Regions from separate parts of the Homo sapiens genome. Here all the other regions are linked to region 3. Evidence: fine-mapped expression QTL. A gene starts in region 3. Each other region holds a variant in brackets. All regions are shown on one strand. Distances are from middle to middle. Region 1 overlaps CERS6 (ceramide synthase 6). Region 2 overlaps LOC105373734 (a long non-coding RNA gene). Region 3 holds the start of CERS6 (ceramide synthase 6). Region 4 overlaps CERS6 (ceramide synthase 6).

Evidence for each region. PIP is the estimated chance that this variant, and not a neighbour inherited with it, causes the effect. A credible set is the group of variants that fine-mapping cannot tell apart.
Region 1: its variant is the best candidate, but not a certain one, in a credible set for the expression of CERS6 in whole blood (TOPMed, PIP 0.75).
Region 2: its variant is the best candidate, but not a certain one, in a credible set for the expression of CERS6 in whole blood (INTERVAL, PIP 0.58).
Region 4: its variant is the best candidate, but not a certain one, in a credible set for the expression of CERS6 in sigmoid colon (GTEx, PIP 0.85).

The regions. Positions count from the first base shown.
Region 1 is chr2:168,765,740-168,771,590 of GRCh38, forward strand. It overlaps CERS6 (ceramide synthase 6), which reads left to right. Exons shown (of 10, transcript NM_203463.3): 9 at 1-9; 10 at 3,771-5,851. The coding sequence ends at 3,923. Among named protein-coding and RNA genes, the nearest start is that of CERS6-AS1, 18 kb to the right of the region's middle. The variant A/T (reference allele first, on the strand shown) is at 2,837.
Region 2 is chr2:168,361,166-168,367,043 of GRCh38, forward strand. The region is part of intron 2 of LOC105373734 (a long non-coding RNA gene); the gene reads right to left. Among named protein-coding and RNA genes, the nearest start is that of CERS6, 92 kb to the right of the region's middle. The variant T/TAC (reference allele first, on the strand shown) is at 3,406.
Region 3 is chr2:168,452,854-168,458,652 of GRCh38, forward strand. CERS6 (ceramide synthase 6) reads left to right here and starts at 3,419. Exons shown (of 10, transcript NM_203463.3): 1 at 3,419-3,765. The coding sequence starts at 3,596. It overlaps LOC102724081 (a long non-coding RNA gene), which reads right to left. Exons shown (of 4, transcript XR_002959433.2): 1 at 4,178-5,799. RefSeq lists silencers at 3,011-3,230, 3,261-3,350, 3,471-3,600, 4,051-4,110.
Region 4 is chr2:168,636,663-168,641,662 of GRCh38, forward strand. All of the region lies in intron 4 of CERS6 (ceramide synthase 6), which reads left to right. Among named protein-coding and RNA genes, the nearest start is that of MIR4774, 56 kb to the left of the region's middle. The variant T/C (reference allele first, on the strand shown) is at 3,075.

The DNA of each region.
Region 1 (5,851 bases), 310 kb after region 3:
AGAGGCAAGGTAAGCTACAACTCACTTTTTCCAATATGTCTTAAAAAATTTTGTTTTTGTAATTTCTCTGGATCAACTATTTACTATTCCATATTTCATCAAAATTGGTAGTATTTCTTCAGAATTGAGCAAAAATTGAGTCATTTCCTTTTCTAGTTCATTTTTTAAGTCTTCAGTGTTCCTTTGCTGGCGATGGCACCCAATGATATGCATTTGTAATTTTAGACTTAATAATATATTATTTGTTGTGTTCGCTCTCCCTCTTCCTGTCAACCTTGGACCTCCTCTGATTATATTTATACTGAACAGAAATTTAATCACTTCTTTCCTTTTATGAGAAGGGTCGCTTGGTGCTGTATGCCGGTTTAAACAAACCTTTCTTTCAAACTGAAAAACAAATCTGTTCATGACTTCCAACAAGATTTAGTTAAATCTTTTTGGTTAAAAGTGGACTTGAGGTTGATTCGAATAAAGCTTCCTAAGCCTCAGCCCCAACCCTGTGTGTAGAGCAGAGACTTTTCCAGATCATTCTCTGTGACATTTTCTTACTTGTTTGTTCTCTTCCTTCTGCTACCCTGGAAGGCTGGGAAGTGGAACCCTTTACATGTAAGTTTCTCCTCCTCTCTCTCTATCCCTGTCCTGAGTGCCTCTTGCCTGTTGGAGGGGCACTCAGATGCTTTTGTTTCCACGCATATTGTTCTGTCTAACCTATTGGCACTGTCTAGAGGCTTCATGTGAGCTGTAGCTCTGTGAACTGCAAGAGACACTAGAGACAGCTCTGTTAGGGCCCTTTGGTGTGAGCTTGTATTCTGCTAAATGTTGCATGATCCAACAGAGAAGAAGAATTTCTTTCACTACCCCCTCTCTGACAGGATGGTGTGAAAGCTTGCCAGGTACTTGCCAGGTTTAATGTGTTGGCTAAAAGACAGAAATAGACCAAAGTAAAGTAGGAGAAACAGAACTAGTTGGAGGGGGAGAGGATCAACACATTGCAGAATGGAGGCCTGAGCATCAGCTGTGGGCCTGACCTGCCTGGGGCCATATGGCAGCACCTGACCACTCTGACTCATCAAGGTCAACAGGGCTGGCCTGTTCTGCAGGGGAAGTCGGGGCATCTAGTCGTGTACTATGAAGCCACTTCTCAGCACCAGCTCTAGTAGAAATCCTAATTATTTTGATCAATTAATTGTTCAGAAGCTAAAGTTCATTTTTCTCTGTGACCTCTCACTCTTTGTAATGAACATGTATTTCTATTTTAAAATCTCCTTGTCCTCATTTGGATACAAATTTAATCAACATGCACAAAACTGTCAATATGATAACAATAACTAAATATGCAAGAATGCTGCTTAGATTACTTGTGTCCTTAATTGCATTGCTATTTCTACCAGACTTGTTGCCTGCTCTTCAACTTATTCCTTCTACTTTATGAAGAGAGATGATGATTAATTTTATTCTAGATCTCAGGCTTCAGAATATCTTAGCTGCCCTTGCGGCTCTCACCTGGGATAGTAAGATTCATCTTGACCATGAGTTATTTTCCTCTGGGCTATTTTGAGATATTCTAAATTGTCCTTTCTTTGAAGGTAACATAAGTATAGATTTTTCTAAGTGCAATTTAAAAAATCTGACTGAGCATGCAAATGTAAATTAATCACTTTGTAAAACTGGAGTTTTCTATTTATGACTAATGGACTTAACAACATAGTGGAACTTTACTATAATGCTGGCTTTGTGACTCACAATGTTTAAGTTCAATTATCTTTAGCCATTTTGGAGTCTTAGTATTTAAATCTTTTTGGAGATGGCCTGTGTGAGTTCAGTCCCATCTCAACGGGTATTGGAGTGAGGTTCACTTTTATGATATTTACTTCATCACCACTGGTTGGCATAAAGCAGTAGTTCTCAGCTTTCAAGTTCTCCTGACCCCACCCACCTGAGAGAGAGGACGTTCTCCCACAGGAACTGTAGTTTCTCAAGTTGGGAGAGGTGGAGGGAGTCCAGGATTCTCATGTTAGAGTGTAGTGGTAACATAGACAGGATGTGATGTGGGAAAGCGCCAGTTAATTCTGCCATACCTCCCAGGAGACTTTGCCACCTCCCCAGCCCACCCCCTAGAGAATCACAGGAGGACCAGATTGGGAAAATTCCTATGAAGGGAGGCCACCAGGTCTCTTTTGTCACACCACTGAAAAATATAAGTAAGCAGTGATGAGTTACTCAAGAATCTTAAGGCCTTCTGGGTAAAAATGCTTACCATAATTTAGACTTACAGAATAGGAGGTTCAAACTATTTTTATCTTAAAAGCAGTATTTTCTTAATTTCCCCCAAAAACTACTTCCTTGCTAAATAGTAGGATTTTTCTCATCGTTTATGGTAATGTATAGATTTACATCTTCTCACCTTATTTTGACCTCCATGTGACTTAGTGAGATTGAATGGAGGATTGAAGAGACTTGGCAGGATGGGAGCCAGTTTTTTTTGTTTTGTTTTGTTTTGTTTTTTTTTTTAAGACAGTTTCACTCATTGCTCTGGCTGGAGTGCAATGGCGCGATCTTGGCTCACCGCAACCTCCACTTCCTGGGCTCAAGCAATTCTCCTGCCTCAGCCTCCAGAGTAGCTGAGATTACAGACATGCGCCACCACACCCGGCTAATTTTTTTTTTTTTTTAAGTTGAGACTGGGCTTCTCCATGTTGGTCAGTCTGGCCTTGAACTCCTGACCTCAGGTGATCCACCCACCTCAGGCTCCCAAAGTGCTGGGATTATAGGCATGAGCCACCTCGCCTGGCTGGGAGCCAGTTCTTGATGATCTAGTCAGTGGATTTTCCTCAGG[A/T]AATATTTCAAGCTTCACCCCGCCCAGCAGGTTCTTAAGATGCCTCCTGGCCAGGCACGGTGTCTCACACCTGTAATCCCAACACTTCGGGAGGTCAAGGCAGGTGGATCACCTGAGGTCAGGAGTTCCAGACCAGCCTGGCCAACATAGTGAAACCCTGTCTCTACTAAAAATACAAAAATTAGCTGGGCATGGTGGCTCATGCCTGTAATCCTAGCTACTCGGGAGGCTAAGGCAGGAGAATTGCCTGAACCCAGGAGGCGGAGGTTGCAGTGAGTTGGATCGCACCAGTGCACTCCAGCCTGGGCAACAGAGCAAGACTCTGACTCAAAAAAAAAAAAAAAAAAGAAAAGAAAAAAAAAATGCTTCCTGCTGTCATTTGTTGTGTGACATACAGAACAAAATTCCTAATTAATTATAGCATACAAAAAATAGAAATGTAATCATAAAACAATGCATGAAAAAGCCAAATAGGAATTTTTTTTTTTCAGTGTTCTGAGTTAGTGACTATCTCCATTGCTATGGTTAATTGAGAGCTGATTTTAAATTATTCTCAAGGAGAATGTGATCATCAATGAGTAAATTGATCCATTTGTACCAAATTCCTATGACGCCATTCCAGTGACACAGTATGCTACTTTTTGATTACAAGTGGGATTCATGGTCTAGTATGTTCTCAATATGGAAAGATACCTTAAAGAAGTCAAGAAGTCTAGCCCTCCATGATACTTACATTCCTTCATAAATGACTTTGTCGCCTACATTTTATCTCTCCAATGAAGGGGAACTTATTGCTCTGGCAATGTTCTCATCCTCTTCAGTTTTTTAACATTGGGATCTGTTTCCCCTTGTGTATGACTGCATGTGCTTCTAGCATGCCATACCTTGATGATTTCTTAGGTGCTGGTTATACTCACCTGCTTCTACTCCACAGGTGTCCAAGGATGATCGAAGTGATATTGAGTCTAGCTCAGATGAGGAGGACTCAGAACCTCCGGGAAAGAATCCCCACACTGCGACAACCACCAATGGGACCAGTGGTACCAACGGGTATCTCCTGACTGGCTCCTGCTCCATGGATGATTAATTACTCAAAACTACAAGTCCCAAGCAAAGTGAACTATTTGTTCCTGGAAGTATTTAATAAGTTGCAAATGCAGTTCCTTTCATAATATCTCAGCACCAGAAACAAAAATTAAGATTATCAAAGCATTTTGAATAGTGCACTGCCATGTGTCCTGTCTGTGAATGAAGAAGAATTACCATTCTCTCTTTGTAGGCATGCTGTATGTAATTGACACAAGGGAACAGTATTTGCATTTGTACTGTCTTAGAATATTATTTATTTTTTTGTATTTGTAAATCTGTGGACAAAAGAGGGTTTCCTCACTCCTTTTACTCACTGGGCTCATGACAGTGAAGGAGATGCTCCATCTGCTTCTCCCCCTTTCTCTTGCTGTAGTCCAATGTGCTATGAGCATCAGCTTACTTTGTCACTTAGAGCAAGCAAAACCCAGTGCAAGAGTCTCGTTCAGCTCTAAATAGGTTTGCTTTCTTTTAGTTACAGTGCCCATTTTGAAATTGCCTATACAGTCTTAGTGACCATTTAAACCGGACGAACTAGGTGTTTAATTTTCACTCTTCATGTTCAATTAGCAGTTCAAATTAAAGAAGATGGTTATTGGAGAACTTTTTTGAATGGTTTTGTATTAAATTGCTTTGAAATAGATTTCATTTCTTGTGCACACAGCCAAGATTTCTTCAATGGGTGTGAGCTAGTTGAGGGTTAACCTTGTAGGTTGCAGAGTGTATTTGTTTGTTTGTTTGTTTTTCTCTGTGATGAGGTCAGTGCTCTGATTTTGAAGGAGGATATTCACTGAAGCTCATAGTTATAAACAAGGAAATCACTGTTAAGAATGGGAATTTGTCCTGTGTTCTGGGAATAACATAAAGAGAGCAACTGATTTCAGCCAGGTTTTGCCACTACCCTATAATTAGTGCAGTCTTATGTTATAAAAGAAAGAAGTTAACTATATTTGGGGACAAAAAAATATTTCAAGAGTTGATAAAGATTACCTGTGCAGTGCAGAGCACTTTAATGCAACCAGCTTTCAAGAAAAAGCCCTATCTAGTACTTGATGTTGATGTTTTTATTTTGCTGAGCAAAATAAAGCCAATGGGAGAAAGACTATTTTACCCTTTGCTTTTCTCCTTAAACGTAATCCAGATGACTTTCCTGTTACTAAACACTGAGCAGCATTACACTACAATGCTTCTTTGGTTTCCAGGAATTTTTTTCAAATGGGGCTGTTTCTGGAAAAATGAAAAATTCTATTGGACAATGGCAATATCAACAATGAGGAAAATTACTGAAGAATAAGTTTCCATAAGTCTCCTACATAGCAGTGTTATTTATGTACAGATAAGAAAACCATATGTCAGCCAAAGATTTTATCTCTTCTTCTAACTTTTAGTAAGAGGAAAAAGGGATTATAAAACCCTTCATAAATCAAGAAGGCCATCACTTAGAACGAACCCCAAACAAAAATGCCATAATATAAATGTGTGAATCAGGGCTGTGAAGACAACAGCAGAAATGCTAACAAGCGTGCAGAAACACCAGAGAGTGCGTATCCTGCTCAGAACCATTCACATTTAATTCAATTCTTGGAAAAAATTAAAGCTTTTTGCCCACAATTTGCAATCTGTGGGTTAATAGTTAAAAGAATGTTCCCAACCAAAAAATTCTTACCGTAATATTATATCTTGCCCTACTTATTTACAAAATAATATGTTTCTGTTATGGTCCTTAGTAATAATTGAAGAGGCTTAGAAATACATCTGCTTGTTTATTGAGAAAACGATGCAAATAATTCTGCTTTTAGAGCCTTGTTATTTTATTTCACAAAACAGGCATATGTCTAGGAGTGTAATTTGTGGATGGTTGAGTTTGTAAGAACAATCATAAAAGGACTTGTTAGTCTCCAGAACATCTGCTAAAATGCAAGTATATGT
Region 2 (5,878 bases), 92 kb before region 3:
AATGACTTGTGATAGGTGGTGATGTCTCCACAGCCCATCATTTCTGCCCTAGGGCTCTTAATAAAAGAGGTCAAACACCTTGATTTCTTGCACAGTCACTTCACCATGGCCGTGGAGTTCTTGTGTGTTTGTGTGTGGTGGGGGAGGAGTTGGGAGTGGAGATGCAATCTGGAAGACCACTCCCTACCCACTTCCAACTCCTCCCCTCACCACACATAGGAATTTCTCATAGAAATATGGCAATCATTATATGGGGTCTGGGGGTATCTCTCATCTTGACCAAGCTCTAAAACAATGTAGGCCCCAGGATAGGACTAATTTTTCTCCTGGTTGTATGCTGTGTTCAATGGTCCTCTGCTGAGATGGCAGGTGCCTTGTGTCTAGCTTGCTGTTAAGGGAGGAGTACAAGGCAACAATTATGGGGGTTGGGGGGTTGAGGTGGGGAGACACCAGAGTTAAAGTATCAAATTGGTATCTTGCCCTATCAGATTGTAGGCTGATTCTTATTTCCCTATCAAGATTGTGTCACTTTTTGGTGCCCTTCATTTTGTGTCCCTGCTTGCATTTTTTTTTCAGATAGCTTGTCAAAAACAGAACTCTTCAGAGTATCTATGTACGTGCATTGGTCTCTATATTGGCTTTCCATTTTCTTTCTACTTGAGATCATTTATGATGATCTTGTCAACATTTTGCTTTGTAGAACCTCCAATCTTTTTTTAGCCATATTCCTTCTTAGTCTCAGGCAATGGATCGTGCCTCCATTTCTTTTAAACATCCTTTGAGCTACTTCCCCAGGGAAGTCCCAGGAAATGTCTACCCACCAAAAATTCCTCCCCGTTCCTTAACATTATGTGACAGGGTCATTTTTCCTCATGGCTTCTGTCTCTTCCATACCCCCAGCCAGTCTTTTATGCTGGCCAGAACCATGTTTGGCATAGCTGTTTTTCTCACTGTTTTCCCTACTTTAATGGAGGACAAATTGTCAATAAACTAAGCCAAGGATTTAATAGATACTCCCCTGTGGGAAGAATGGCACTTCTAGCAGAAGTATGAATTGCCAGCCCTCCATTACTAAATATAACCTTGCCACAATGTCCTTCTGAATTTTACACAGAGTTTTATACCTTCTTGACATACTTCTTCCATTAGATTGATTTTCTGACCTAGATTTCCCTTCTAATGCCCCATTCCGCTTGACAGTTCTATCCTTTTGGGACTCCGTAACACCAATAGTATCACACATACTTTACTCCGTGGAAAGGTCAAGCTCATTTTCTTTATTTAACCAGGTGGATTCTATGAAACTTATTTATTTCTATATGTCCAGCATTAACAAAGTACCTAGCACATGATAAATAGTCAATAAGAGCAAATTGAATAAAAATAAGATGGTATAGATGCATATGAAAACTTAACTATTTTTGAAAACTCTTCCCCTAGCTGTATTTTCTTGAGAATAATTGGGCTCCTTTTTTTTGCTATTGTTCTTTTCTCTGTATGTCACAGACTTATGTTTAATGGGTTTTAGATCCTAGAACTTGAGTTTGCAGGCCGAATATGTGCTATGTGGGCTTACTAGGATTCAGAATTACCTTCTTGCTCTCTCTCAAAGAACAATATAGCATTGAGACTTGGTAAGCCATAAATAGAAAGCAAAGGGTGAAATTTCATTGTAAAACAGCAAAAAGAATCAGAATTCCCTTTATTCTTTTAGGGCAAAAGATCACTTCTTGCATTATTTGAAGGTGTCACATGAGAGACTTGCCTGCTTTTCAGAAGGCGGTATTGCATATTTGGGGCCGAAAGAAACAGGAGAGCAGAGGGGAAAGAGAAGTTTGAAAGCTCAGAGGTTTTATTCTAAGGTATAAGCAAGCTACTGTGGATGGTGTTCCTAAGAGAAACCCTCAAATAGCTTTTATAGGCAAACCAAGAAAAACTTAATTGAACATCCTAGAGAGTTGATTTTTCCCACCTACAGAGATAAAAATGACATTGCAATGCAGAGGATAGGGCAAATCTTGGTTTAGGTTAAAAAAAGAGTAGTTAAGTCCTAAGAGAAAGGTCATATTTTAAAATAGGTTGAAGAATAAAAGAAAGACTGAAAAAAATGGAAATATGGCAAGTACTTGGGCAGGTGAACATGTTAAGAATACAATTTGTGGAGAGGGCACACTACTTCTTTCTTGCTCCTCATTAGCACATTGTGGGATCAACTGTCCTGAAGAGTGACATATTTTTACAGACCAATTTTCCAGGAAAGCATTTGGTTTCCGTGCAAATAAATTAACGAATAAATTACTGGAAATACTTAAAAGGAAATCTCATGTGATTCAGAGTGAACTTAGAGATTCTTAAATGAAGAAACATCACCATTGTGCCCATGCCAAGAGGGTGATAAGGATTATTCCTCTTTCTTCAACAATTTCTCTTTCACTTCCTGATTTCAGTGGTCATTGGCAGGGTGCAGTCTTTGCCTGTTGCTCTTCTCTCTTAACACACTTTATTTATTTATTCATTTTTGGTTTATTTTATTTTATTTTTTTTTGTAAAGACAGGGTCTCACTATGTTCCCAGTGATGGTCTCAAACCCCTGGCCTCAAGTGATTCTCCCGCCTCGGCCTCCCAAAGCACTGGGATTACAGGCATGAACCACCATGCCCAGATCACACTTAATTTTAGAAGGCTCACTGTTGCCCATAAACTTTAGCACCCACCCCCTCTGTATAGATGACACCCAAGTCATTAACTCTAGTCAAGACTCACTGTCACCACTTCCATCCCCATCACTGGATAATTCCACTTCAACATTGTGCCATGACCTCAGACTCCTCCACCAAAGTCACCATGTGCTCACAGCACATCCTACCATGTGAGCTTGCTCTCTGGCAGGTAGGGGAGACATCTAGAAGTAAATTGGTACACAAGGGACAGAGAGAAGACTTTGCCAGTTGCAGGCAGGGATGTATGTGACACATGCAAGAATCTTCCTTTCTGCCTGGGAACAACTGCCTGTTCTGGCCTCTAATCCTGAGCCTTGGTGCAATTTCACCTTCCTGACTCTGATCTACTGGTTTCCCTTCTTACTTTGAGGACTGAACTCTGGCCTGTGTCCCTAGAATTAGCCCATTAGTCTGGCTCCTAATCCACATTTTGCTCATAAATCAGTAAGCTACCATTTGTATGAAAAAAAGAGTGTACATGACTATAATTATAAGACACTTCTAGAAGGATACATGAGACATTAGTAAAAGTTGTTGCTTCTGAAGAAATAAATTAGGTAGCTGGGGGCAAGGGGAGAGAGACTTACCTGTCAAGTAAACCTTACTCTTTCTCTCTCTCTCTCTCCATATATACATATGTATATATATACACATATATATACACATATATATATACACATATATA[T/TAC]ATATACACATATATATACATATACACACATAAACATACATATATACACACACGTATATATATAAATTTTAAATTTTCATTTAAAAATTAAATGAAAAAGTATGCTGATCATCCTATGTTCTGTCAAAAAATATTTATTGATCATCTACATGCCAAACACTGTTGAATAAATAATGCTCTCCTAGTTATTATTCTAGTAAATAGAAATAGTTGATAAACAAGTAGATGAGAAGCTAATTTCACCACCTCACACTCATCAGGATGGCTACTATTAAAAAAAAAACAGAACTAAATAAATGTTGAGAAGGATGTGGAGAAATCAAAACCGTAATGCACTGATGGGAATGTAAAATGCTGCAGTAGTGTGAAGGCTCCTCAAAACATTAAAAATAGAATTACCATATGATCCAACAATTCAACGTCTGAGTATATACTCAAAAGAATTGAAAGTAGAGCCTCAAAGGGATATTTGTACACCTATGTTTATGGCAGCATTATTCACAATAGCCAAAGGTGAAAGCAGCCCAAATGTTTATTGGCGGGTGAATGGATGAACAAAATGTGGTGCATACATACCATGGAACACAATCCAGTCTTGAAGGCAATTCTGGCACCTGCTGCAACATGGTGCACCTCAAGGACATCATGCTAAGTGAAGTAAGCCAGTCACAAAAAGAAAAATATCACATGATTCCACTTACATGAGGTACCTAGAGCAGCCAAATCCATAAAGACAAAAAGTATAGGAGTGGTTGCTAGGGGCTAGAAGGATTGGGAAATGGGGAGTTTTTGTTTAACGGGCACACAGTTTTGCAAGATGAAGAGTTCTCGAGATGGATGGTGGTGATGGTTGCGTAACAATGTGAATGTACTTATTGCCACTGAACCGTACACTCAGTTTTTCTTTCAGAGACAAGGTCTCACTCTGTTGCTCAGACTGGGGTGCAGAGGCACAATCATGGCTGACTGCAGCCTCAACCTCCTAGGTGCAAGCCGTCCTCCTACCTCAGCTACCTTAGCCTCCTGAACAGCTGGGCTCACAGGTGCATGCCACTGTGCCTGGCTAATTAAAATTTTATTTTTTGTATAGATGGGCTCTTGCCATGTTGCTCAGGCTGGTCTTGAACTCCTGGGCTCAAGCATTCCACCTGCTTTGACCTCCCAAAATGCTGGGATTACAGGTGTGAGCTACCACTGGCCTAAACTGTACTCTTAAAATACTTAAGATGGTATATTCTAAAAAAAGTAATAAGCTAATTTTAAAGACAGTAAGTAGTTTGAGGAGAATAAACAAAGGTGACAGGACAGAGTGTAATGGGCTGGGCTATAAAGAGTGAGCAGAAGAGGCATCCTGAGGAGCTGGCATCTGAATGGGACCAGGAATAATGGGAATGAGCTGGCAAGAAGGTCCCGGGATGCAGAGGGCACAGCCGTGTAAAGACCCCCAGGTGGGAGAGAGCTTTCGTGTGCTGCAGCAACAGAAAGAAGGTCTGTGCAGCTGACACGTGCTGTAGGAGGCAGGGGAGGCAGAGCGTGTCCTTGCACAGGGGCAGTAAGCAGCAGTGCCACTCTACAGTTCAAGTCAGCCAGCCATTGGTGTGAACAGACCACTCTGTCTCTTTCTTATGGCGCAATTCTAATTACTCTTCTAATTATTCTTATTACCCTACCCTCTCTTTTAAGAGCCAAGATTGAAGTTTCTTTCGGATGAGATTTCTCAGGAGTGTCAAAGTAGGAAAGTATGGAAGCCTGAGGCCTGGGATGATCCCAAATGTCCAGAAATACAGGCATGTGCACCAATCCAACTAGGTTCTGATATCAGAAAACCAGCTTTGGAGTTTAGGCCCAGTTAAATCTGACTTTAAACATCCTTCACATCTTTGAAGCTCGGTTTCTCCATCTGTCAGATGGGAATCACGAGAATGTCTTCCTCACTGTGTTGCCGTGAAAATCATGTTAATCGTGGATAACTAATTGTAAACTAGTGTTATTTACACATTAGTTGGTATCATGCCACTGATTTTCTGGCTCTGTGGTGCTGCACTTTCCAGTGGTTCTAGCAATCTCAGAGATTATCAAAATAAAATTCAGGGCCTGGCATGGGGCTCACACCTGTAATCTCAGGACTTTGGGAGGCCGAGGCAGGCAGGTTGCTTGAGTCCAGGAATGCCAGACCAGCCTAGGCAACATGGTAAAACCCTGTCTCTACACAAAATACAAAAATTAGCCAGGCATGGTGGCACACAGCTGTAGTCCCAGCTACTCAGGAGGCTGAGTTAGGAGGATCACCTGAGCCTGGGAAGTCAAGGCTGGAGTGACCCATGATTGCATCACTGCACTCCAGCCTGGGTAGCACAGTGAGGCCTTTTCTCAAAAAAGAAAAGAAAAATTAAGGAACATTTTTGAAACAAAAGATGCAATGTGTGGGTTTGGAGAGTCCATGGCGAGGAGGAATGGCATGACATAAAATACT
Region 3 (5,799 bases):
AGCCATGGAGTAGGAAGCAAGGTACTATCAGGTCATACAGGAAGGAGTGACATGAGAAACCAGGGGTAGTCACAGAAGAAGTCTGGCTGGCCCAGAAGGCCAGGCTCTGACATGTCATGACATGTCATGACATGACTTTCGGACACAAAGTTGGTGAGAGGTCTTAACAAACCTCTGTCTATGGCCTACGAGAATGCAGCTGGTGCCAAGGCATGTTCCAGTGTTACTGAGAAGCTCACCACATGGTCTAGAGTGGTGATGGCGACTTCTACTCCCAAATGAAGACTCACTTCAATGACACCTCACCTCCCTCACCCCAGAATTGACCAATTCCTTCTTTATGCCCACACTATTCTACACACGAGTCTAACATGGATATATAAATATTTAACACAATTATTCAGATTTTTTTTCTTCTCCTTGAGAAGACTTTTTGGGGTTGGAGTAATGTTGATTCATTTATTCAGTAGTTTATTGAGTATCTACAATGTGCCGGGCAGTTTTTTTTTTTAAGTGCTAGGAATAGAACAGTTGATAAAATAAATACAAATCTTTTAACTTTCTGAAGCTTACATTTTAGTGCATGTCTGTGTGGATGATTGATGAAGATATAGGTACAATATATCTTGTGTTGACGGTGGTAAGTGTCTTGGAGAAAAACAAAGCAAGATAGGAAGAGTGGTGGTGGGGATTGAGGGATGTAGATTAACTAGGGTGGCCAGGGAAGGCTTCAGGGAGAAAATGACATCAGTACAGAGCAAACATGGATGTTCGTGTAAAAAGAGTTCCAGGGACAGAGAAGAGCAAGCACAAAGGCTCTAAGACATAGCTGGTGTGTCCCAGTAAGGGCAGGGTGGCCAGTGTGGACTCAGGCAGAGTGAAGGAGAGAGAAGAGTAAATAAGTCAGAGTTAATACGGAACCAAATATCACAGGTCATTGGAATAATTTGGCTTTCACTTGGGAGGGATGAGGAAGAAGCAGGGTTTTCACCCCAGGGGTGATCTGACAAATTTGCATAGGATCACACTGGCTGAGAATAGACTGTAGAGGGGCAAAGGGTGAAACTGGGAGTTGGGAGGTTACTGGAGTAATGTGAATTAGAAGTATTGGTTGTTTGGACCAAGATGGTAGCAGGGGAGGTGGTGAGAGATGGTGAGATTATGGTTTTAAAATGGTGCTGATGGGATTTGGGATGGATTGGAAAGGAGGTATGAGAGAAAGAGAGAAGGGGAAAAAATGACTCCACATTTTTGGCTTGAGCCAAGACTACAGGAGGAAGAGATTTCAAGGGGAAGATTAATAGTTTGGTCATGAGATAGCTTTTAGACATCTGAGTGGTGGTGTTAAATTGCCAGTGGATTTAAGAGTCAGAAGGTCAGGAAAAAGTTCATGGCTAGAGATATAAATATGGGAGCTATTAGCATGACATTGGAGGGCATACAGATGTCATTAAAAGCCACGAGACTGGATAAAATCACCAAATGAATACATTCAGATAGAAAAGTGAAGAGGAAAAAAGACTGACTCCTAGGCCACTATAACTTCTAGGGGTTAGAAAAGTGAGGAGTAACCAGGAAGGAGACTGAGAAGAAATGGCCATGAAGGAGGAAGAAACCCAGAAGAGTGAGGTTTCTGGAAGCCAAGTCAAGAATGTTTTAAGACACACGACCTGACAACTGGGCCAAATGCTACTGACAGAGGTGTTGTGAACTGCTATGAACTGAATGTGTGTGTCCCCCAAAATTCATATGCTGAAATCCTAGTTCCCAATGTGATAGTATTCAGAGACAGAGTCTTTGGGAGGTAATTAGCTAATGAGGGTAGAACCTTCATGAATGGGATTAGTGCCCTTATAAGAAGATAGGGCACTAATCTGTGTTTCCTCTTTCTGTGCTCTCTGCCATGTGAGGATACACAAGAAAACAGCTGTTTTCAAACCAGGAAGAGGATCCTTGCCAGACACTGGATCTGCCTGCATGTTGATCTTGGACTTCCCTGCCTCCAGAACCGTGAGGAATAAATTCTGCTGTTTAAGCCACCTAGTCTAAGCAGCCTGGACTAAGATAAGAACTGACCTTTGTGTTTAGCAGCATGAAGATCACAGGTGACCTTGGGCAGTTTCAATGCAGCAGAGGAGACAAATGTCCAAATGGAAGTTCAAAAGAAAATGAGGGGAGAGAAATTGGAAGCACCAGTATAGGCCATTCTTCAGTTTCACTTTCAAGAGATAGAGTGGAAAGAGGGGAGGGAAGAGTAAAAGAAACTCCCTCTCTCTGTGTGTGTGTGTGTGTGTGTGTGTGCGGTTATATGCCCACTGGAAAGGTTTAGTATAGCCTACTGGCAGCACCAGGCAGAAAATGAATGTGAGAAAAATGAACAAAAATGCCCCAGAACCATGTATACATGGGCCATGGAATGAATTCACACATGGCTCCTGTATCAATGGGGAAATGCATTGCGGGAGGGAAGGTGCCTGGGTTAGGCCTCACAGGCCTAATGCCTTAAAGGTTTTAGATTCAAAAGGCAGAAATAATGAGCCTGCCGAGTAGCACAGTGGAGGTTCTCATGATGTGCCAGGTCAAAATGTGGTCTAGCAGCCTTTTCAGAGAGGTTAGTTGAGAGGGGTGGTTTTACAGAACGCTGCAGTTGCTATCATCATCATCATCATCATCATCATCGTCATCAAGTAGCAATTAATAATCAAATAGCAATTAAGTGCCTAATTTTTTGTACCACCTCATAAATCAATATAGGGGGGCTTGTTCCCTGGGGGAGCTACTTTGATGAGAAGCAGCAGTATAAAAGACCGGAAAGTCAAAGATTGGGGAAAGGCAGGCGTGGGGCAGAGGCAGAAGGCTCTTGCCAAACCATCCTGCCTCAGTTCCTGATTTTTCACCCTGCCTCTCCAAGCGCGGGAGTGGAGGATCCTTTCCCTCCCACTTCCTCCTTTGCTCTTTACCCCTCCCCCTCCCCCCCCCTTTTTTTTTTTTTGCTGTCCTCCTGGAGCAGGGCTGGTTCTGAAGCTTGGCGGCAGCCCCTACCTGCTGACCCACCGCCTCCGGGCGCACGGGAAGAGGACTGAGAGCCCTGAAACCCCAGCGGGGCAGGAGCCAGCATTCTGAGCATGTGCGAGCCAGCCAGGGGGCTAGGGCGGATTTGGGGGGTCGACTTTAGGTCGTCGCCCTAAGCGCAAAGCGAAAGAGCGGTGAGAGCAGGGGCGGGCGACACTCCCCGGAGCGGTGCCCCTGCGCCCAGGGCGCAGCGACTGCGCCCTGCCCTGCGGGTGTGGGCGAGTTGGCCGCGTGTGTGCCTCGCTGTTTGACGCGAAGACGAGCCAATCAGGGCGGGCGGCCCGAGCTGCCATGTGACGGGCAAGGCGGCCCCTTTCCCCAGCGCGGCCAGAGGGAGGAGAGAACCGGGGCTCGCCGCGAGCCTTCGAGAGCAGCGGCCGCGGAGGAGGCGGCGGCGGCGGGCGGGAGCAGCGGCGGCGGCGGCACAGGCTCGGGGCCAGCCGGGCGCGCATCCCCGGGCGCCCTGCGCGGTGGAGAGCTTGGCGGGCTGCGGGTGCCGCAGGACAGGAGTGGACAAAGCAAGATGGCAGGGATCTTAGCCTGGTTCTGGAACGAGAGGTTTTGGCTCCCGCACAATGTCACCTGGGCGGACCTGAAGAACACGGAGGAGGCCACCTTCCCGCAGGCTGAGGACCTCTATCTCGCTTTTCCCCTGGCCTTCTGTATCTTCATGGTGCGGCTCATCTTCGAGAGGTAAGAAGGGCTGAAGCCCCTCCTCCCCTCCCCCTGCGCACACACACGCGCGCACACACTCGCGCGCTCTCTGGCGCACGCCCCCGCGCCCCCAACGCTCGCGTTCACGCCTCCCAACCTTTGTGTTCGGGGAGGGGTTGCTGACCCCCCTGCCCCGCTGGCTTTCTGGGAGCCAGAAAGGGTCTGGCTTGCCACGGATTTCCTCCCGGGCGCCGGGGAGGAGCCGCGGAGCGTTAGGGTCGCCCCCTGCCCTCCTCCTGGGCCCTGCTCTCCTCCCGGCAAGGGCAGGCGAACAAAGGTGAGCGGTGGTCGGGCTCAGGACCCGCCGCATTCCGCGGGGCTCGCCCCTCTCCGCCGGCGCGCCACGCAAGGCTGCCAGGCAGGGCTTCCCGCCGGGGCCCGCGCCACCCACCTGACAGCCAGGAACGTTCCGGACGCGCGGCCCGGAGGGAGGAGGAACCGCGCACACTTCAATCTTTATGCTCCGGCACACGGATTGTAGGGGTTGTGCTTCAAAAGAATTCGCCAGGGACTTCCTGGCTTCTGGTCGCTGTTTGGTTTTTATCCGTGAAACTATCAGGCCCACAGTCCTGGCAAATAGGGGATAATAGCATTTCAGGTTATTAGCGGTTTCTTTAAAAGAGGATGTGACAGGACGGGTCCACATCCTGCAAAATGGTGATATTAAACTGATAACCCTGTCCTGTGAATAATCATAAACTTCTTTTTTGGTACTCGAAGGCACTTAAAATTTTGAGGAATTGTCATGCAATTGTATAGTTCCTCGGTTTGGTTGGATATCTCCATTGTGTCACATACAAACTTGTGTTATTCTCATGGAATTCGTTTTCGTCGCGAAACTAGATTGTGCCTGCCATGCATTCTCTGGGTGCTACTGAAAGAAAACCAGGACAGCAGCACACTTTTTTTTTCGTAACAGAAAATATTATCTTCCCCTTTCTTGTACCCTCCCCTTCCTCTGCCCAATTCATCAGTAAAGGCTGAATTTCTTAGATCACAAAGTAGAGTTTAGATTGCATTTCTCGCTTCCACTCCGCCTTTCTTCCCCGCCTTCAACTCACCTTGGTTTTGTTTCTTAAGCTTTTGCTGGTACCTCATTTGCTGTTCCTCTTTGCCTGAAAACGACTGTTGAGGGTGGCAGAACGCGTCTTTTGAGTCATTTGCTGCTGGACGAGGCAACAAAGCTTCATGGGGACAAAAAGTATCTTTTGTCTCAGGAAGGTATATTTTTCACCGGACAGTATTGTTGCTTGAAAACGAAGTCAGCTGTTCGCCTGCAGAAATTGACATGCACAAAGCAACAGACTTTAAGACCTATGTTTAAATTATTGGAATCTAATACAGATGTGTCATTGATCCTATACAAAAAAGGATCAAAAAAGTCACAGCAGTGCTGTGAAAAAATGGGTGTGTTTGCAGGTGTAGAGTTACCTCTAGAGCAAATGTTTGGTTACAGAAAATATGAACTCTATACAGTTTTGCAGGCTCTCCAAAAACAAGCAGACTCAGGGATAGCAGGTTTGCTCTATGTTGGCACATAGTAGGGGATCTACACACAATTGCTGAATTATGATAAATTGTGTCTGATAAATTCTGGCTGGGCTCACTTTTAGATAGATAATGCATTTGAAAGAGATGTGCAGTCTTATGTGTTGGAGAACAAAAGCATGATCTGTGCACAAACAGCCGAATTTTCCTGACATCCTCCTTCTCTATGCTGATTCCAGGCTGTTCACTGTGTTTAAAAAAATTAAGTTGTTAGAATGGAGATGGCTTTGTACTTAGATTGTCTCTGCCTCTAAAAAGATAAACACTAATGTGATAGTTGAAAACTGGAAGTTCATTTTTCCTCTTTCTAAACATTTTTTATTTTCTTTCTTTTTTTCCATAATCCCATGACTCGACTTAGAGTTTACATAGAGGGGTGAGCTGCTTTCAATTGTCAGTCACAGCAAATGTCCTCATATTGATATAAAGTGAGTTGGTCAGTTTCCTTCAGGCCATTGATCTAAG
Region 4 (5,000 bases), 180 kb after region 3:
AAAAGATCTTGAATAACGAAAGGAAATTCTTCAGTGCTGCTGCTTATTGCATCTTCCTTTCCCTCTTCTACCTACATCTACCCTCTTGCATATGTTCTGATTCTCCTCGTCCCTTTCATTTACCCTACCTCATTTTCCTTCTGTGTTGGCTTGTGGCTGGCATTCTATCTGAGAGGGCATTCCAAGGCCAGTGAGAAACCAAGGATAATGTGACTGTGAGGCCCTGTAGAGGCCGTCAGAACGCCTGGGTTATTGAATTCTGCCATTAATCAGCTTTGTGACCTTTACGCAAGCCTCTTAATCTCTCTTGGATTTAATTGCTTCGTCTCTAAAATCAGTAATGTAGACTATCCTAACTAATGGCTTTCAGCTCATATCCCATAATTCAGTAAAGAATTTGAAATTGCTCATATGTATGGTGAGCTGGTCCCACCTCCTTGGAAGGTGGCACAGTAATGCAGAATAATCTTAAATATCTTCTTATATTTTGACCTGGCACTCCAACTCCTATGAACTTATCTTTAATAAAAAATTGCCAGGCACGGTGGCTCACGCCTGTAATCCCAGCACTTTGGGAGGCTGAAGCGCGTGGATCACGAGGTCAGGAGTTCAAGACCAGCCTGGCCAACATGGTGAAACCCTGTATCTACTGAAAATACAGAAAAAAAAAGTAGCCAGGTTTGGTGGCACACGCCTATAGTCCCAGCTACTCAGGAGGCTGAGGCAGGAGAATTGCTTGAGCCCAGTAGGCGGAGGTTGCACTGAGCTGAGATCCTGCCACTGCACTCCAGCCTGGGGCAATAGAGTGAGACGCCGTCTAAAAAAAAAGAAAAAATTACACAGGAACACTAAATATGGATGTGTGAATGTGTGAAGTTGCTTATTACAACTTGTGATAATGTGGAGGTGATGGATATTCACTAAATGTATATGAATATATACACATACATAACATAGCAAATCCAAAGCAGAACTTAATGTCTCATATTAGAAGAATATTTTAATTAAATTATCAAAGTGACAAAATGACATGCAATCTTTTTGAGAAAAACTATAACTATTCTTAAAATATTTAGTAGAATGTTACATGAAAGTAACAATCTCATGTATGTGTTTTACTGTGGTAGTAATGTAATGGATAAATCACAGCAGTAGGTAAAAATGAAGACTCCTTTTACAGGTAGAAATTTGGAGGTTTTTTTCAATATATCTTTAATACTTTATTTTCTATTAAATAAAATTAACTCTGAAATGTAGGAATTGGAATGGAAAAGACTATACATAGGATTAGGTATACCTAGGTCATAAAAGAACATGAGGTTGTGAATTTTAAAGAGGAGGAAATAAAAATTAAAAGTCGAATTCCATTTAAATGGTGAAGAAATAGAAATGTTTGGTCTGAAAAAAAAAATTCAGCTGTTTATGTTTGCCTAGTTCTCACTGTTTTGCTTTATTTATCTGCTACTTTCAACTGAACTCATACTAGCAAAGCTGAGAATCTGTGGTTGCTGCATTCTTGGTAGTTTTGGATCTCATCAGAAATCATCTCCTAATTTTCAGACTGGGTATAGAAATTCCTTTTTACACAAGTTGGTATCATTCCACAGAACAATTTTTTCTCTCCTTCTATGTTATGAATTTATTTTCTGCAATGTAACTAGCAGACCATCTATATACTATTCACATTAAGAAACTGGTTGGACTAAGAAAAATGTTTGAGGTGATGAATATCCCAGTTACCCTGATTTGACCATTGCACATCGTATCAAAAAAAAAAAGTATCAAAAATAAAACACATTACCCCCAAAACATGTACAACTACTATATATCAATTAAAATATATAAACAAAAATTCAATTCAGGGATTTTTTTTGAAGCTAATTTGGACTTTATATTTTGACATTTAAGGAAATATACTTTGACATTGTCCATTGCCCAGAATAAATTAAAAACTTTTTCAGATGATAAAGGTATTTCATCAGCACTGAGATTATTGCTTATAGCTTCTTGTTTAGTGGTATGCCATACTTTGATTTTGGTTTTATAAAATTTTCTGTAAAGAGCATTGAGAAGCCTTTCCTCATGTTGTTGCTGCATTGTGTTTAGGCTGTGTCTTGAGAGAATGGCATTTCAGATTGACAGCTTTCTTCAGGCTGTGAGGTATACAGACTTTAGGACTTCATAAAGCTGAAGTATAGATTTTTGGGGAAGATATTGGGGATTCCTTGAACTCCAAGAGCAAATGGTGGCTGCTGCATTCTGAGTTCTTGCTCTTTTGTAATTATACAAGAGTTTCTGGATTTGGTGTTTTATAAAACCATAAATCTTATTTTTTCAGCTCACTTGATAACATAGCAACTTTGTAGAAACTCTAGAAATAAAAAAAAAAGAACGCATGTCAGAGTCTACCAAAATAACACTCACTTAAATATGATTTTCATTATTAGACAGTCCCCTGAAGGCATAGACTTCTACTCAAAAGTTTAGAGTTGAACTTGACTATGAAAAACATTGGTCTAATTTATATGCTGTGACAAAACTAGCTTTACAGGCTTCCTTTGGCCGGAGGCAGTGCCTGAGAAGGGAGTTGCATTAGTATTCACCTCCTGTTTCTACCATGGGAAATAGAAAACTAGTAACTCCCAGAAGATTCAGGTAATTTGATAGGAAGTATTGATCCATGTATCAAAATCTGTACCTGCACATTCACTCTGCATTAGCTGAACCATCATCAGAGACCTCTCTGACACAGAAAGAAAAATGATTTACTGAATTTAGCGAGGAAAGCATTACTCAAGTGTGTTTTTTCTAAAATCTGAAAGCTAATGGCGTTCACATACCATGATCACCATAATAGAACATTTTCCTCATCAACAACAATAATGAAACAAACCAGATGTTCTTTACTTAAGAACAGCTTTCTGGGGGAAGTAATGAGATGTTCTACTTCTGCTTGTGAAGCCAGTGTTCTTTCCCAGCAGGGAAGGGCCTCATCTTGTCTGGGTGTGTTTGGGATGGGGGTGGGGTGCTTAGGACAAGTACTTGATGTGGAGCAGAGCAGCAGGAATTCCGAT[T/C]GGACCAGCTCATGCTCTGATTATAGCTCTGTGTGTGGTTCCAGGGGAACTCTAGTTCAGGGAGTATCTGGTACTGGGTCTGCTGTCAGGTGGGACAAATGGCTTAGTGTTTGTGCTTTGTTTTGTTTATGTTTGCCTCCCTTCTCATTTATTAATGCACATGAGAATAGGCCTGCTTGACAGGGGCCGTTGCTGTCATTGCTTAGGATTTATTAGTCAAAAATCTGGTGATACTAGTTATCTTGGAATGACTATTCCAAAGCACAGACAAGGTGACCATTTTGTGCCCAAGAAATGTAGGCTTCCACAAGGAAGTGAAGAGTGAAAAGGATAAAGTAACTTTTTCCCTCATAGAAATTAATCTATATTGATAGAGGTAGTTTTACCTGAGTGGGGTAAAGAGAGACTGCTGGAGTGAGTGCTGGCAATGTTCTCGATATGGATAGTGATGTAAGTATTTACATATCTAGACATACATCAAATTTCTGTGCCCTTAGGACCGTGTACTTTACCTTAACAACTTAATAACGTCTGTTAATCCTATAGCTGCCATACAAAGCAGTCCCTGCATGTTGCTGAATGGAAATGTGGGCATAAAGCATTCAAGTAGGAAAAGCTGGGATTTAAAGGGTGTTCCATTCCTGGCTATTTCCAAAGAGCTTCTGTTCATACTGGTGGGAGATACTGATCTCTGTTCATTTGTTCATTCTTTCTTTAAGAATCTGTTGAGCACCCATCCTATGACAGCAGTGATTGTGGGCACCATGGATGAAACAGTCTGAGACACTAACCTTGTGGTGCCAAGGCTATTATTGCTCTTTTCCCTGGTATCATCAGTAACATGGGAGCCTAATTCAATTTAGCAGACATTTATTAAGCATCGATGCACAAGACATGGTGTCAGATGTAGGAAGCTATGGCTCCTGCCTTCAGGGATTTTGTAATCTAGCAGAGAAGTTAAGCTTTGTCTAAAAATACTTATATAATATGAGGCTTTGTGATAAGTGGAATGTTGCATTAAGGAGATGGGACATTTTAGCCAAAGAAGGCTGAGTTTTCCTGCTTGTCCTCATTCTAAAAGATACCTGGTGTTTGTGTGGAAAGGGCTTCCTCACTTTCCTTCTCCTTGACCTTAATATATAGTCTCTCATCTTATTAACTCATTCTGTACCACTAACCCATGTCTTGTCTGTATTCTCTTTCCATCTTCCTCCATATACCCAGAGTGGTGACTGAGTGGAGTTGGGAACTAAAGATGATGGTGGAGAGTCATTTCAGATCTTTCCTCCATCCCTTGGCCCAATCCACCCATGGATTGCTGTAAAATTACATCCTTAATCCTGGCCAGCAGAACTTAACCACCAGATGTTGATGTCACTATTCCTTCATTACCATTTAACCCTTTCACAGACGACATGATTGCTCAGACCACTTGTCCTTCCCAGCCGCCCCATTTCACCCTTCTCTGCACCACTTGCCTTACTTTCAAATACCAGATGAGTATTACTGTACCGGAAATGTCATTTTTTTAGACGTGTCTTTCAATTAAACTGATTGTAATCAGTTTAACCGATTTGTTCTTGAGAGTTCTTCCCTGGCTTCCCATAGAAACTGCACGGAACAAAGTCCCCAGCTTTTCCTCTGGACGTTAGCAACTTTGACAAAGGCAAATGAAGCATAAAACTGTCACCTAGTCTTTAGACTTCCCACTGCCCCACATATTCCTGTCCCAGGCAGCTGGATGCATGGCTTCCTCAGGGTTTGCTAATGTAGCATCACGTACATAGAATGACCGTCCTCACCTTTACCTAAAACCTACCGGCCCAGGTTCTTTGTGGATCCCCTCACCATTGAACACCTATAATGTTAAGCCCTTTAAATCTCTATTGTATAGGTTGGAAGGTTGTTTTGCATATATGTAAAGCA